Homo sapiens: one gene and its partners. The protein of the gene in region 4 purifies or fractionates together with the protein of the main gene of each other region. This does not show direct contact. Each region holds a gene or a part of one and is shown on either strand. Other genes may lie near its edges.

What was found. The genes of interacting proteins can lie anywhere in the genome.
Region 1: the proteins of SLC24A3 (region 4) and TMEM109 purify together in Homo sapiens (affinity purification with mass spectrometry; one large-scale study listed by BioGRID and IntAct). This does not show direct contact.
Region 2: the proteins of SLC24A3 (region 4) and BRI3BP purify together in Homo sapiens (affinity purification with mass spectrometry; one large-scale study listed by BioGRID and IntAct). This does not show direct contact.
Region 3: the proteins of SLC24A3 (region 4) and GPR89A purify together in Homo sapiens (affinity purification with mass spectrometry, with the first as the bait; one large-scale study listed by BioGRID). This does not show direct contact.

The regions. Positions count from the first base shown.
Region 1 is NC_000011.10:60,917,158-60,920,550, forward strand, and holds part of TMEM109 (voltage-gated monoatomic cation channel TMEM109 precursor), read left to right. Parts: intron 1-458; exon of another isoform or gene 459-1,996; intron 1,997-2,528; 5' UTR 2,529-2,536; coding exon 2,537-2,773; intron 2,774-3,393. UniProt on the Homo sapiens protein: Functions as a voltage-gated monoatomic cation channel permeable to both potassium and calcium. Plays a role in the cellular response to DNA damage.
Region 2 is NC_000012.12:125,014,145-125,017,644, forward strand, and holds part of BRI3BP (BRI3-binding protein precursor), read left to right. Parts: intron 1-3,500. UniProt on the Homo sapiens protein: Involved in tumorigenesis and may function by stabilizing p53/TP53.
Region 3 is NC_000001.11:145,614,488-145,617,987, forward strand, and holds part of GPR89A (Golgi pH regulator A), read left to right. Parts: intron 1-1,746; coding exon 1,747-1,806; intron 1,807-3,500. UniProt on the Homo sapiens protein: Voltage-gated channel that enables the transfer of anions such as iodide, chloride, bromide and fluoride which may function in counter-ion conductance and participates in Golgi acidification.
Region 4 is NC_000020.11:19,211,232-19,215,441, reverse strand, and holds the start of SLC24A3 (sodium/potassium/calcium exchanger 3 precursor), read right to left. Parts: upstream 2,801-4,210; 5' UTR 2,600-2,800; coding exon 2,458-2,599; intron 1-2,457. UniProt on the Homo sapiens protein: Calcium, potassium:sodium antiporter that transports 1 Ca(2+) and 1 K(+) in exchange for 4 Na(+).

The DNA of each region.
Region 1 (3,393 bases), on a different chromosome or scaffold from region 4:
CCTAAATGTAGTATTTTTAGAACCCTTTCCTAGACTCTCCTCCTTCCCCCTAAGCAAGACTAGGACATCATTCTCTTCCTTCTCCATCCCTCATGGCTCTGGATTTATTGTCAACTCCCTGAGTGCCTGTGTAACTGCAAAAAGTTCAAAAACCTGACTGCTCCTACCTCAGGGGCATGGCTTAGCCTCTGATCATCAGGTCTGAATCATGAAAACTCCTGGAGCTACAGGTTCATTTCTGAACCTGGAGGGGAACAGGGAATTTGCTGGCGCTGTCTGACATTTCTCAAGCACAGTGGCAAGTAGAAGTTGAACTTGTGTACTTTTTCTTGGCTGATCCTTACCTGCTTCAATGAGTTGGCACTTGTTGGGTCTTAACTTGTCTGTGGCATTGTGTTACAAGACCAGAGCACAAAGCACAAAGTTGTTAGGTAATTTTCACCAGTAATTCACTGAGATGATTGGTAGATGCCAAGTTTATTTTAACTCATGAATAATCTGTTGTGTGACTTTTTTTTTTAAGCGTCTTGCTCTCTTGCCCAGGATGGGATACAGTGGCATGATCATAGCTCACTGCAGCCGTGACCTCCTGGGCTCAAGTGATCCTCCCCCCTCAGCCTCCCAAATAGCTGGGAGTACAGGCACGCACCACCACACCTGACTAATTTATTTATTTATATTTATTTTGTAGAGACAGGGTCTCCTATGTTGCCCAGGCTGCTCCCAAACTCCTGGGCTCAAGCAATCCTCCCACCTCAGCCTCCCAAAGTGTTGGGATTACAGGAATGAGCCACTGTGCCTGGCCTGTATGACTTTCTAAATCACTTCTGAGACTTAGTTGGAGACAATACAGCAGAGTTGTTGTGTATGAGGGGTCCAATGTCAGAAGTACCTACATTCAAATGCTGATTTCCCCAGTTAATACTTAACCTGCCTCAATTACTTCAGTAAAATGGGGGATAATAGCAACACCTACCCGATGGGCTGTTGTGACAGTTAAATGAGCGCGGTGGTGCATGGCAAGACCTAGCTGAATGTTAGCTTTTTATTAATAGTATTTCTTTAAAGGTTGTTCATTATACCCTTGCTCACTGTCCTCGTCCATTTTCTGCTTCCTATAACAGAATGCCACTGCCTGCGTAGTTTATAATGAACAGAAATTCATTAGGGTCACAGTTCCAGAGGCTGGGAAGTCTAAGGGCATGGCGCTGGCATCTGGCAAGGGTCATCCTATGGCAGAAGGCAGAACCCAGCACATGAGACAGAGACAGGAAATCAGGCCAAAGTCATCCTTTTTATCAGGAGCTGCATTCCTGGGATAACTAATCCACTCCCAAGATAACGGCATTAATCCATTCATGAGGGCTGAACCCTCATAACCTAATCACCTCTTAAAGGTCCCACCTTTTAATACCATCATCATGGCAATTAAATTTCTTTCTTTTTTTTTTTTTTTTGGTGGAGAAGGGGTCAAACTATTTTACTGAGGGGAATGGGGTGTCAAAGAAGTACTTAGGACCATGAGATCCAACATCCTTGGCTGGACTGGGAGCTCCCAGGCTCTGCAGGAGGTGCAAGAACAGTTAAATTTCAACATGAGTTTTGCTCTTCAAACCATAGCACCTCCATTGGGGGTGGGGAGGTGAGGTCACTCTGTATCAGTGGTTCTCAACTTCATGCAGTGGAACTGCCTAGGGAGCTTTTGCAGATCCAAGGCTAGGCCACACCCAGACAATGATATCAGAACCTCTGGGCTGGGGACACAGACATCAGTACTTGGGAAGCTTCCAGGTGATTCCAGTGAGCAGCCATGGTTGAGACCCACAGTATAACTTGACTCCTAATGAAGATGGGTGGAAGCAGAAGCTTGGGTTCAAATCCTGGCCTTTCTGTGTAGCCCAGTGACCATGGGAAAATGCTTAACTTCTGAGTCACAGTTTCTTCTCGTCTGTACCAGTAGGGGCGAGGAGGATAAAAGCCACCTCACATGATGGTCCTGCAGAGAAGATGACATATGTGCAGTTATTCTTGTTTGAGCACATAACTGAGCACTTTTCTTTATACCATTATATGGCAGTAATCCTACTTGTGTGCTATTTTTAAGTTGTTTTTTATACCAGCTGTATCTTAAGTAGATTATAAGCTCCTTGGGACAGAGCCTTTATAGAGTCTTATAATACTTTTATGCCTATAGCACCTAAGATACAGGGACAGGCCTTCAGATTTTTAGAACTGGCACAAACCTTAGAGAGATCTTCTCGCCAACTCTAAAGTGTTGAATAATACTTGCTGGTTAATTAATATGCAAGTGGTAAAGAATGTGAAAGAGGAACCTGTGAGTCAGATGGTTGTGCCCAGCTTCAGTTGGAAGTCCCAGTCCTTCCTCTCCCAGCTAACAGCACTTTCTTTCCAGGGTTAGTTTGGTGCTTGCTTGGGGTAGGGGTGGAGAAGGATGTTGGGATAATCAGAGCTGAGAGGGTGAGTGTGTCTACCATGGCACTCAGCTCACTGTGCTTCTCTCCTGGCAGACCCAGTCATGGCAGCCTCCAGCATCAGTTCACCATGGGGAAAGCATGTGTTCAAAGCCATTCTGATGGTCCTAGTGGCCCTTATCCTCCTCCACTCAGCATTGGCCCAGTCCCGTCGAGACTTTGCACCACCAGGCCAACAGAAGAGAGAAGCCCCAGTTGATGTCTTGACCCAGATAGGTCGATCTGTGCGAGGGACACTGGATGCCTGGATTGGGCCAGAGACCATGCACCTGGTGTCAGAGGTAAGGAAGGTAGTCCCTGTGTGACTACACACATTAAGGAAAAATAAAAGAAGAAAGGTTGGTAATGGCCACCTCATCTTAGTTCCACATCCTCTCTGGTGCAGAGAGCCCCAAATTCCACAAAAAGAAGCCACACAGCACTTGTCTTTGAATTCCTCGTTATTTGATTGCTGTCCTAGGGCCTTTTAGCTCCACCCCTATCCTTTCCTGGCTCCTGCCCTTTCCTTGCCAGAAAGGCTGGGAAATGAGCCATCTTTATAAGCCCATGTTACTGGGTGACTGTAGAGTCTCACTTTGGTCTAAATCTGACCTAGAATCTCGAAATGGCAAAATATCAAGTCCTGAATCCATTCCTTCACCTGCAGAAGTGGGTTGAGCTTATTGGGAGCCTAAGGCAGGGTTATCTTTTTTTACCTGGTGGCATCCCAAGCATGGTATCACATACTTTTGATAGGCTGGACTGAAGGGCTGAGACAATCATTTATTAAATCCATAATATAGTATAGCTGATAGACTCCTTTTTCACTGGAACATCCTATCCCTTTACAGATGTTCTCCACGCACCTTCATGACTCCCTGGACAGCTAGCAGGCCTCCAGTTTTATAGGGTGACTACTAAA
Region 2 (3,500 bases), on a different chromosome or scaffold from region 4:
CGTGCCCCATGGTGTGCCAGGTAAACAGGGATCTCCTAGCTGCCCCCGCTCCACTGCTCTCCTTCTGTCCACAAGGTGGAGGCCGCTCTTCCCCTGGGCCTTTCCAGAGGAAATTCCCCAGCTGGGCTCTTTCCAGCCCCACCGCCCTGGTCCCTGGTCCCAGCTGCCACCTGTCTCACGGGAAGGTCTGCAGTTGCTGCATGTGGCAGGGTTCCTAAGACCATCTACAGGCTCACCGGTTCCCTAGGAGCACTGGCAGGACTCAGCATATAGTTGTCCTCACAGCCGTGATTTATTGTGACGGAAGGACGCAAACACCATCAGCAAAGGGAAAAGGTGCGCGAATTCCCGGGCAGGCCAGGCCCAAGCTTCAGAGTTCTCTCCCTGTGGAGTCATACGGGACACACTTAATTCCCCCAGCAGAGGGTGCCCACCAAGGACTCCCTGCCCAGGCTTTTTACTGGGGGCTGGTCATGTAGTCACCCTCTGCTTGACACGTGTCAAAATTCTAGACTCCCAGAGGGAACGCAGGTGTTGTCATAAACCACATCATTTGTGTCAACAGCCTAGGCCTGGCATCTCCAGGCTGCACTCTGGCCCCAGCTCTGCACCTGGCACAAAGAGGCCCTTTTTGTTTGTTTTTGTTTAGGATCTCACTCTGTTGCCCAGGCTGGAGTGCAGTGGCTCAATCACAGCTCACTACAGCCTCAACTTCCTGGGCTCGTGATCCTCCCACCTCAGCCTCCCGAGTAGCTGGGACCACAGGCCCATGCCACCACACCTGGCTAATTTTTGAATTTTCTGTAGAGACAGGGTCTTACCATGTTGCCCAGGCTGGTCTCAAACTCTTGGGCTCAAACCATTCTACTGTTTCAGCCTCCCAAAGTGCTGAGATTGTAGGCGTGAGCCACCACACCCAGCCCACCCTTGGTTAATAAGAGCAGGAGGGCTGTGGGTCCCACTGCTTAGCCAGTCATGTGGGCTGAAATGTGCTCCTCAAGAATATGTGTTCCAGTCCTAATCCTGGACCTGTGAGTGAGCCCTTGTTTGGGAGTGGGGTCTGCAGATGTGATAAAGTTAAATGAGATCGTCTTGGATTAGGGTGGACCCTCAGTGTAATGATTGCTGTCCTTATAAGAAGTGGGGAATTTGGACACAGAAACACCAAGAAACATAGGGAGAAGACGGCCATGCGAAATGAGAAACAGGGACTGGAGGGACGGAGCCACAAGCCAAGGAACACTGGGACCACCAGAAGCTGGAAGAGGCGAGGAAGGATCCTCCCTTGAACTTTCAGAGGGAGTGTGGCCCCACCAAGACCTTGATTTCAGACTTCCAGCCTCCAGAACCGCAAGTGGATGAATTTCTGTTGTAAACCACCCAGTTGGTAGTGGTTTGTTGCGGCAGTCACGGGAAACCATTATACCATAGCCCTGTTACATGCGGAATCTCTCAGCAGCGCCCATTGGTGCTTGACACCCAGAGATGGGGGAGTGGGGTCCACTGGCCATGATGGGCACACTGGTTCATACCTGTTGACACCCCAGGCCATTCAGAAATGTCTCCAGCCTTAATTCATTGAGTTCAACCTTTAAGAGGCCTTAGGCCAACTCAGTCACCTCACTGCTCAGACAAAGAATCAGAGGCGTCAGCATAGCCAGAGGACACTGTGCACCTGGCAGCCCCCTGGGGCCACTCATGGCCCCTCCAGGGACTTGGCAGAGTTAACGCACCCTCCCCCAGATGCAGCCACCGCGTGCAATCCTCTTAGCTTCCGTATCCACCACCTGCCCGGATTGTCAAACTCTCTGTGTTTTCGTCGCCACCCATTGAACCCTGGAGAAACAAACCTGATTGCAGAAAATCGCACGCAGCTTGGAATGAAAAACTACAGAGTAGGAACAGCCTCCTAATCATATGGAAGAAGCCCAGAATAGAGGCATCGGCAGCGGATCCACGAGCCCTGAATGCCTGCATTCATCAGGGGAGCAGCTGGCGCGTTCTGGAGGCGAAACGAGCTTGCTTCCGTGTCGAAGCTTTTCTAGTTCTGTTTGATGCGTAAGCTTCAAGGCATCCGAAGCCCTTTGGAATTCGTGTCTTATGCGTAGAAGTTTGAGTGCAAAATGCTTTACAGGAAGCCATACACCAACGTTGGATATTCTGGTAAAAAAGGTTTCTGTGAGCACAATTCTATAATTTCTTTCTTCAGTGTTTTTTTTTTTTTTGAGTCTGGTTAAAATGGGAACTCTGTAGCCCCGAATGGTCTAATAGCAAAAAAATGTGAGCCCCCTAGGTGATGTGAAGTTTTCTAGTAACCATGTCAAAAGAGTAAAAAGAAATGGTGAAATTAGTTTTTCTTCCTTTTTTGGGGGGGAGGGGGTGGGGAGTGGGGGGTAGGAGGGACGAAGTCTCACTCTATTGCCCAAGCTGAAGTGCAATGGCGCTATCTCGGCTCACTGCAACCTCTGCCTCCTGGGTTCAAGTGATTCTCCTGCCCCAGCCTGCCAAGTAGCTGGGATTACAGGCATGCACCACCACACCCGGCTAATTTTTCTGTATTTTTAGTAGAGACAGGGTTTCACTATGTTGGCCAGGCTGGTCTTGAGCTCCTGACCTCGTGATCCGCCCGCCTCAGCCTCCCAAAGTGCTGGGATTACGGGCATGAGCCACTGCGCCCAGCCTTTTTTTTTTTTTTTTTTTTTTTTTTTGAGACAGAGTCTTGCTCTGTTGCCCAGGCTGGAGTGCAGTGGTGCAATCCCAGCTCACTGCAACCTCCACCAACCCAGGCTCAGGTGATCCTCCCACCTCAGCTTCCCAACTAGCTGGGACCACAAGTGTGCACCACCACATCTGGCTAACGTTTGTATTATTATTATTATTTTTTTTTTTCTGAGACCGAGTATTGCTCTGTCGCCCAGGCTAGAATGCAGTGGCCGATCTCATCTCACCACTGCAACCTCCACCTCCCGGGTTCAAGCAATTCTCGTGCCTCAGTCTCCCGAGTAGCTGGGATTACAGGCACCTGCCACCATGCCTGGCTAATTTTTGTATTTTTTTTTAGTAGAGATGGGGTTTCACCATCTTGGCCAGGGTATTCTCGAACTCCTGACCTCATGATCCACCTGCCTCGGCCTCCCAAAGTGCTAGGATTACAGGCGTGAGCCACCGTGCCCCCCTAATGTTTTTTTTTTATAGAGATGGGGTTTTGCCATGTTGCCCAGGGTGGTCTCGAACTCCTGAGCTCCAGTGATCTGCCTGCCTTGGCCTCCCAGAGTGCTGGGATTACAGGCATGTGCCACCATGCCCAGGTGAAATTAATTTTAATAAGATATTTTAGTTAACCCAATATATTAAAAACAACTTATAATTAATAGAAAATTATCAGGTGTCTCACAGTTTTTTGGGTAACTAAGGCCTTTGAGACAGTCTCTATTTGACACTTAGAGCGCACATCAGTTCTGACTTGTCACATTTCAAGGGCTCAGCACACGATAGATGGC
Region 3 (3,500 bases), on a different chromosome or scaffold from region 4:
TGAATGCTGAAGAATAAACCATCTTTTATGTAGACCACTTAGCCATTCAGCAAGCACTTATGGAGAGCCTGCTACGTACCAGGCTTTGTGCTGGATGCCAAGGATACAAAGATTACAAGACAAACATGGTTTTTGTCCTCATAGAGCTTATAATCTAATGTCAAAAAATATTTAAATCACACATTACAAAACTGTATGGTAAGCACTTTGATGAGGGAAGTACAATGTAAAACAGGATTATATAAAAAGCAATTTATCTGCATTTGGGAGGGCAGAGAGGGCCTTCCAGGGGGAGTAAATAGCATAACTGGGAGAGGGCTAGAGAGAAGTTCCTTTCAGAGGACATCTACACAGGTCTCGATGTGAAAGAATATGGATCTAAAGAACCAAAGAAGTTCCAGGGGGCTGAACACATGAGTTTGCTAGGCAGCAGGGGCATGATAAGAAGCTAAAGTAGTCTGTGCTAAACTACTGAGTTTACACTTGCTCAGTAAAGTAGTCCCTAGAAAGACATAAAATCATTTTATTCATAAAGGTCCTAGCCAGTTTAAGAAGAAAAGAGTAGTTGTGTCAGTGTGTATGTATAGAAAGTTCTGTTTACTACAGACCAGCTTTATCAGCTGTCATGTGGCTACGGTCTCTGCCAGTTTGAAACAAAACTGACGAAAGAGGGATCCTGCAATCTCTCGGCTTTACATTGAGATGAAAACCACTTTTATGTAGATTAGGCAGGATGGTGGAGAAGCTAAGAAAACTCTCTGAAGGAAACAGATATAAAAAATATTAGGCTTTCTACTACTCCTCTAATTTTGGTCTCAACTCCTCTCCCCTGAAGTTTTTATTTTTTAAATTAATTTATTTTTATTTATTTTTTGAGACAGGGTCTCACTCTGTTGCCCAGGCTGGAGCGCAGTGGTGCAATCATGGCTCACTGCAGCCTCAACTTCCTAGGCTCAGGTGATCTTCCCACCTCAGCCTCCCAGGTGGCTGGGACTACAGGCACACCCCACCACCCCCAGCTAATTTTTATGTGTGTGTGTTTTTTGTAGAGACGGGTTTTCACCATGTTGGCCAGGCTGGTATTATTTTTAAATACTTGCAATCAGGGATCATCCATAAGAAGCAAGTCTCACTCTGACACCTTTTCTTTTTTTTCGAGACCTAGTCTCACTCTATCACCCAGGCTGGAATGCAGTGGCACGATATTGGCTCTCTGCAACCTCTGCCTCCCAGATTCAAGCGATTCTCATGCCTCAGCCTTTGGAGTAGCTGGGAATACAGGTGCCCACACCCAGCTAATTTTTGTATTTTCAGTAGAGACGGAGCTTTGCCATGTTGGCCAGACTGGTCTTGAACTCCTGGCTTCAGGTGATCTGCCCACCTTGTCCTCCCAAAGTGCTGGGATTACAAGTGTGAGGCACCGTGCCTGGCCACTGACTCCTTTTCTATTTGCAAACTTCTCTGGCTCATATAATGATTATCATAAGATTATGGCAAAATATGTACTTCCATTTTTGTCTTAAAGCATACTCTGTAACATGGATAACTTCAAAACTCCAAGGGCATTTAAAAATTTATTTCCAATGTCATGAGCTTTAATAATAGGTCTTATAAGAGTGGATCTTATCTTTAATCCCTGAAATAAGTTAACCGTCTAGTTAGCAGACCTTTTATCATAAAAGAGTTTCTATAAAACATTTCTCAAAAGAAAATATGTATTGACATTCTATTTTCTTTCTCCTCCAGATACTATTTTTTGGATTTGGGTGGCTTTTCTTCATGCGCCAATTGTTTAAAGACTATGAGGTGAGAAGAAATCATTTTGTCATACTTACACTATATGATTTAGATTGACAAGAAAAATGTCTCCATTAAAGAAACATTATGTTCATTTCCAAGATAGGAAGCTTTTACCAAATAAGTACTATATAACTATTAGATTGCAGAATATAAGTAGACTTAATTGATTTAAAAGGGGGGAAAAAAGGCAAATCAAATATAGCCCAGAAGTTAGGAGCAAGGATTATGTCTTAGTCATATCAGGATATGTACCAATAGCAAATAGTTATTCTGTAGGAGAGAATTTAATTCATAATGTCTCACAAATGTTCCCTTTCATTTGTCTATCTGGCCCTGAATTGCAAACCTTATATTATAAGTTAATACCAAAATCCCAAGGCTATCAGGGGAACCAGTCCCCAATATTTCAACATAGGTTCTTTCTGTTTTCCTTAAGTGTCGGCCGGTCTGAGAAATAAAGAGAAAGAGTACAAAGAGAGAAATTTTACAGCTGGGCCTCCAGGAGTGCCATCACATATTGGTAGGACCGTGATGGTGACTCCGAGCCACAAAACCAGCAAGTTTTTATTAGGGATTTCAAAAGGGGAGGGAGTGTACGAATAGGGAGTGGGTCACAGAGATCACATGCTGCAAAGGGCAGTAAAATCACAAAGCAGAGGCAAAAATTAGAATTACTGATGAGGGTCTGTGTCCCACTGTGCACACATTGTCTTTATAAACATTTTAACAGGAAATAGGGTTCAAGAGCAGACAACCAGTCTGACTAGAATTTACCAGGCTGGAATTTCCCAATCCTAGTAAGTCTGAGGGCACTGTAGGAGACCAGGGTGTATTTTAGTCCTATCTCAACCGCATAAGACAGACACTCCCAGAGCGGCCATTCATAGACCTCTCTCCCAGAATGCATTCCTTCCCCAGGGTTATTCCTTGCTGGAAAAAGAATTCAGCAGTATTTCTCCTACTCGCTTTCTGCAAGAAGAAGAGTATGACTCTATTCTGCCCAACCCCGCAAGCAGTCAGACCTTATGGTTATCTTTCCGTGTTCCCTGAAAATTGCTGTTATTCTGTTCTTTTTCAGGGTGCACTAATTTCATATTGTTCAAACACACATGTTTTTCAAACAATTTGTACAGTTAACGCAATCATCACAGGGTACTGAGGTGACATACATCCTCAGTTTACAAAGATGACGGGATTAAGAGATTAAAGTAAGACAGTCATAAGAAATTTAAAAAGTATTAATTTGGGGAACTAATAAATGTCCATGAAATCTTCACAATTTATGTTCAGAGATTGCAGTAAAGACAGGTGTAAGAAATTATAAAAGTATTAATTTTGGGAACTAATAAATGTCCATGAAACAATTTATGTTCTTCTGCTGCGGCTTCAGCCAGTCCCTCCATTCGGGGTCCCTGACTTCCCGCAACACAAGGCTGGTGTTGTTTTTATCTTAAGCTTTGGATTCAGAAGATCACCACCCTAGACTCGACATTTCCTAGTTAGTTCTCCTAATTAGTAATAAGATCAGTGGTTATAGTCTACATTTGGGTCATTTCTAGGATATTCTCCATTAAACTTTCCCAGGGAGTTTATTGTCTGAAAGAGCCTGGGATTCTGGAGATTTTCTTCTGCCCAATACTTTAAGACCTCCCGAGGAAGGTTCCAGAACTGATCCAGGATCTGCAGAGTGTTGAAGAACC
Region 4 (4,210 bases):
TATAAATATTACAAAGCTACACCCAAATGGTGGTTTGAATATGAGGACAGAGTAGGGAACAAAAAACCAGGTTACCTCAGGTTGGTTTTTTCCTCTACTCTTCGAATGCTGTGTGACTTTAAGCTAATCACTCAGCCTCTCTACACCACAAGGTCTTCGAAACAATGCTCCATTCCAAACTTCAGTATCTGTACCAAAGGACCACTAGGTAGTGTGTGCTCCAAGTTTCCAGGGTAAAAGTCACCATTCAAATGCTTACGTGTGCCAAACGACAATTCCCCTTGCAAAATTATCATTTGCAGATTCACACACATTAATTAATATGTTAAAAATTATCTAGAAAAACCTGTGTCTTGCTGCAAAATACTACTGTGCATCACATACCAAAATCATCAATACCTAACGGAAAAAAAAGTGATTGGAGACCATTTCAACTCATATGTCATTCGGGGGCAACACAGGGAGGCTGGCTGGCATCCTCCTTAACATTTGGCTTTTGCCTGTTAGATCTTCAGTTACTGGGGTGTGGAGGGGTCCTAAGACCAACAGAGATGAGAAGGGAGGAAGAGGAAGTGAGAGGAAAAAAGAATATGAAAGGTAGGAAGGAGAAAGGTAGGACAGAGGGAGGGATGCGGAAAAGGCCGTGCTATGGAACTAAATCTGAGTCAGTGGCACCTGAATAGAAATGTCACTACCAGGGAAACCATTCCAAAATGACATTCCAGTCCCCAGGTTTCAAGTTTGCAGAGTGTCTGGCCTCCTCTCCTCCCAAATCCCAGCTTTTCAGGGCCCAGGCAGCCCCCTGTCACTGATTGACTTAACTATATGAGTCACATCCTTCACCCAGAAAAAAATGTCTTTTATATTCTTGAAAGTGGTGGGAACTCTATGTCTCATAGAGCCCCAACATACCAGAAAAAAATGGCCAGCGTGTAATCCACTAGGAATAGCCCTTTCCAAAGGTGGCATGAACTATAAACTGGTTTTTCACTGGAGAAAAATAAAAAAGGAAAATAAAAATGGGATTCGGGAAAACCCCCTTAGTGAGACTGTCAGTAGACAGAAGTCTGGCAGATGTGAATCTGCCCTGGGAGAGATTCTGCTTCCCTCACACCGGCACGGCCCCCTTCCTGATGTCAGAACCCAAGGCTACGGGATCTGAGATCCAGGAGAGCAATGGAGAGAGCCGTGGAGTCTTGAACAGCTTCACTGAAGACCAAGACGGACTCTCTGCTATTACCATAAATGATGAAGTCTGTCAAGCGGTCTGCTAAGACTGAATGAAGACTGACGCCTGTTTCACTTCCCCACCAAGCAGGAGACCAGCCAAGCTGGGGGAGATCCCTTTTTAAATTCATGGCACCTTTGAAAATATTTTACGGTGACTATCAAAATGTCTTTATTCTGCACCTCATGACATCTTGCATTAGAGCTACGTCGACCTCAACACCACAGCACATACTTGTAACTGTTTTTTTGTTTGTTTGTTTTGTTTTGTTTTGTTTCTTTCTCACAACCCTTTACATGGCTGTTTTCCCACTAATCGTGCCACTTCCACGGCCGGGATATAAAACCATTTTACAACAGTTATTCTCCCATGTTTTTCCTTCATTTTATAGACAGCTGAATCCCAGGATCGAAGCTGTTTCAGCAGACAACTGTTGGGAGCACACAAGATCTATTTCAGCTCAAGAAAGGCCAAGGACAAAGACAAGACAAAAGTTGTGGGTTAAAGGGCAGACTTTGCGCAGAGCACCGGTAGAGGAGCGGACAGTGTGATGCGTGGTCCACTGCAAACCATTTCTTCCACAGCAGCAGCTCTGCAAAAGGGACCTCTGAGGAAGAATTCCCTGTCTTCCCAGTGAGTGGTCATTTTAGGAGAACAAGTCCCCTACTAGCCCATAGCTGGAGGGCCAACACTTTTTCTCTCCCTGAAGTTCCCGGCACCTGTTCTGAAAGGGGGTTGAAGAGCTCTCTACTCGGGCCATCCCGCCTGCTCTCTGGATGGAGAACATACGGACAACTGTGTGTTAAGCAGTCCCCTTGAATCCTTCAGCAAGCCAAGGAGTATACAGGTGGTCACCTGCACAGGTGCCGGGTCTACCACCACAACTTTATCCCTGGCCTTGGGGGCTGATGGAGAGTAAGACTCCCCACCACCGCCACCAGCAGTACCTCCAGCTCGCGAGTAAGCAGCGCACAGGCGGGCACAGGTAAATGTTCCCAGGGCGGCCAGACGCCTAAGCCTGCTGGCTGCTGGCGCTCAGGGTCCCCACCTCCATGCCTCTGCGTGGGGCAGGGGGAGTCCTCGTGCCTGGCATCCCACTCCCCCCGCCAACCCAGCCCGCTTATCCTGGGGCTCCGGCCGGGCCGCCCGAAGGAGCCCCGCGCCCAGCCCCGGGAGCCCCGAGCCGCCGGAGCCGCAGCGCCCACTCGGGGCAGGCAGCGTGCACTCACCCTTCTGCTCTCGCAGGCTCGACAGCGACCAGAGCAGCAGCGCCACCGAGGCCAGGAAGCAGAGCTGGCTCAGCAGAAGGTCCCTCCGGCGGCGGCGGCGGCGGCGGCGACGCGCGCGGTCCTCGTCGCCGGACGGCCGCATCCTCGGGCGGCCGGGCGGCGGCCTCGGCGGGCGGCGGCCGCTCCTGTCGCGGGCGGCCGCGGCGGGGACAGCGGCAGGAGGCAGCCCTGCGCGCAGCAGCCGCGCGTCCTCGCTGCGCTCCCACCCGGCCGCCGCCTCCGCCTCCTCTTCCTCCTCCTCGCCGCTGCCCGTCTCCTCGTCGTCGCCCTCCTCGTCGCTATCGCCCAGTCCCTCCTCCCCTCCCTCCTCCTCCTCCTCGCCGCTCGCCCGCGCCGCCGCCTCCCGGCGCTCGGGGTCCCGCTCCTCCTCGCGCGCCATGGCTCCCACGCTCCGCGCCCGCGCTCGGCCTGGGGCGGCGGCGCGGCGGGGGCGGCGGGGGCGGCCGGGAGGCGGGGGCGGAGGGGGCAGAGGAGGAGGAGCGGGGAAGGACCGACGGTAGGAGGGCCCGCCGCTGGCCAACTCCGCCGGTTGGCAAAGCCACCCCGGACTGGCTCTGGCCTCGCCGGCTGCAGGAGCGCCTCGCGGGGCCGCCCGCCTATTCCATGGTCGGCGCGATGGGGGCCGGGGCCGGGCCGGAGCGAACAGGGAGCACCGAGCGAGCTGGGAGCATGAGCTAGCGCAGCTCCCGGCAGCCTGCAGCGGCGAGGCTGGTCGGGCCAGGGTTGGCGGGGGGCAGTGCCTGGGACACAGCCCGGCGCTGGCCGGCATGGCGGGGAGGGGGCGCGCTGGGAGGAGACTGGGCTGGGGAGGGATCCCTGTGTGCAGTCCTTCAACCCTTCTGTGCCAGGGGAAGAGGGACGGCGCAGGGGGCCCCCTCTCGGGAAGCACACACGCTGCCTCCCAGAGGCCGATCTTCACCAAGAAGGATTCGCTGGAAACTTTCGGAAAACCGAGGGGCTCTTCAGCCTCCTCTCTACGTGCTACCTGGAGTCGGGGCGCCGCGAGTGCGCTTGGCTGCCCGCGCCCAGCCTCTGGCCTCGCCTCTTCTCGCGGGCCTCCCGGGTTTCCCTCTGCCCCCTTGCGGGGATCCCCCTGTGCGCCCGACTCGGGATCTGGAACAGGCCTCCCCAGAGGCTGTTAGTTCCATAAGGGTGTCCGGCTCCCCCCTCTGTCTTGGGCTCACACTTCGCTTTCTGTTCGTGCTGGACCAAGTCCAATACTGTGGCTGATCGAAGTGGGGACAGCTGGCACGGTCCCTGGAGAGGCGGCCTGAAGAGGCTTCTGGCCTTGTGCAGGTAACACCAGCCTGCCCTACCTCCAACGTTAGAATCTTAGTCCTCCCATTTCCCCCATTCTAGGTCTCCTGCCCCTCCTTGCTGAAGGTGTGGGCTGCCCTAGAGATGGCTGGACTCACGACCTGCCGCAGGTGCCCATTTGGAGGGGATCCCTGGCCATCCCAGACACAGCCCACTCTCCCTCATTGGGCTTCCCTGGACTCTTCCCAGATGCTAGCCTGGGGCTGCTGGCTGGGCTGAGGAGGAGATGCCATTGTTGGGGCGGAGGGTGGGGGGGCGCTGAAAACAAAAGACCTTGTCCAGAAAGGGATCACCTGAAACCAGGTGTCTGTCTAGGTGACTGTCTCCATGGAATCCATTCAGATCAGGGAATCTAGCTTCATACCCTAAGGAGGTG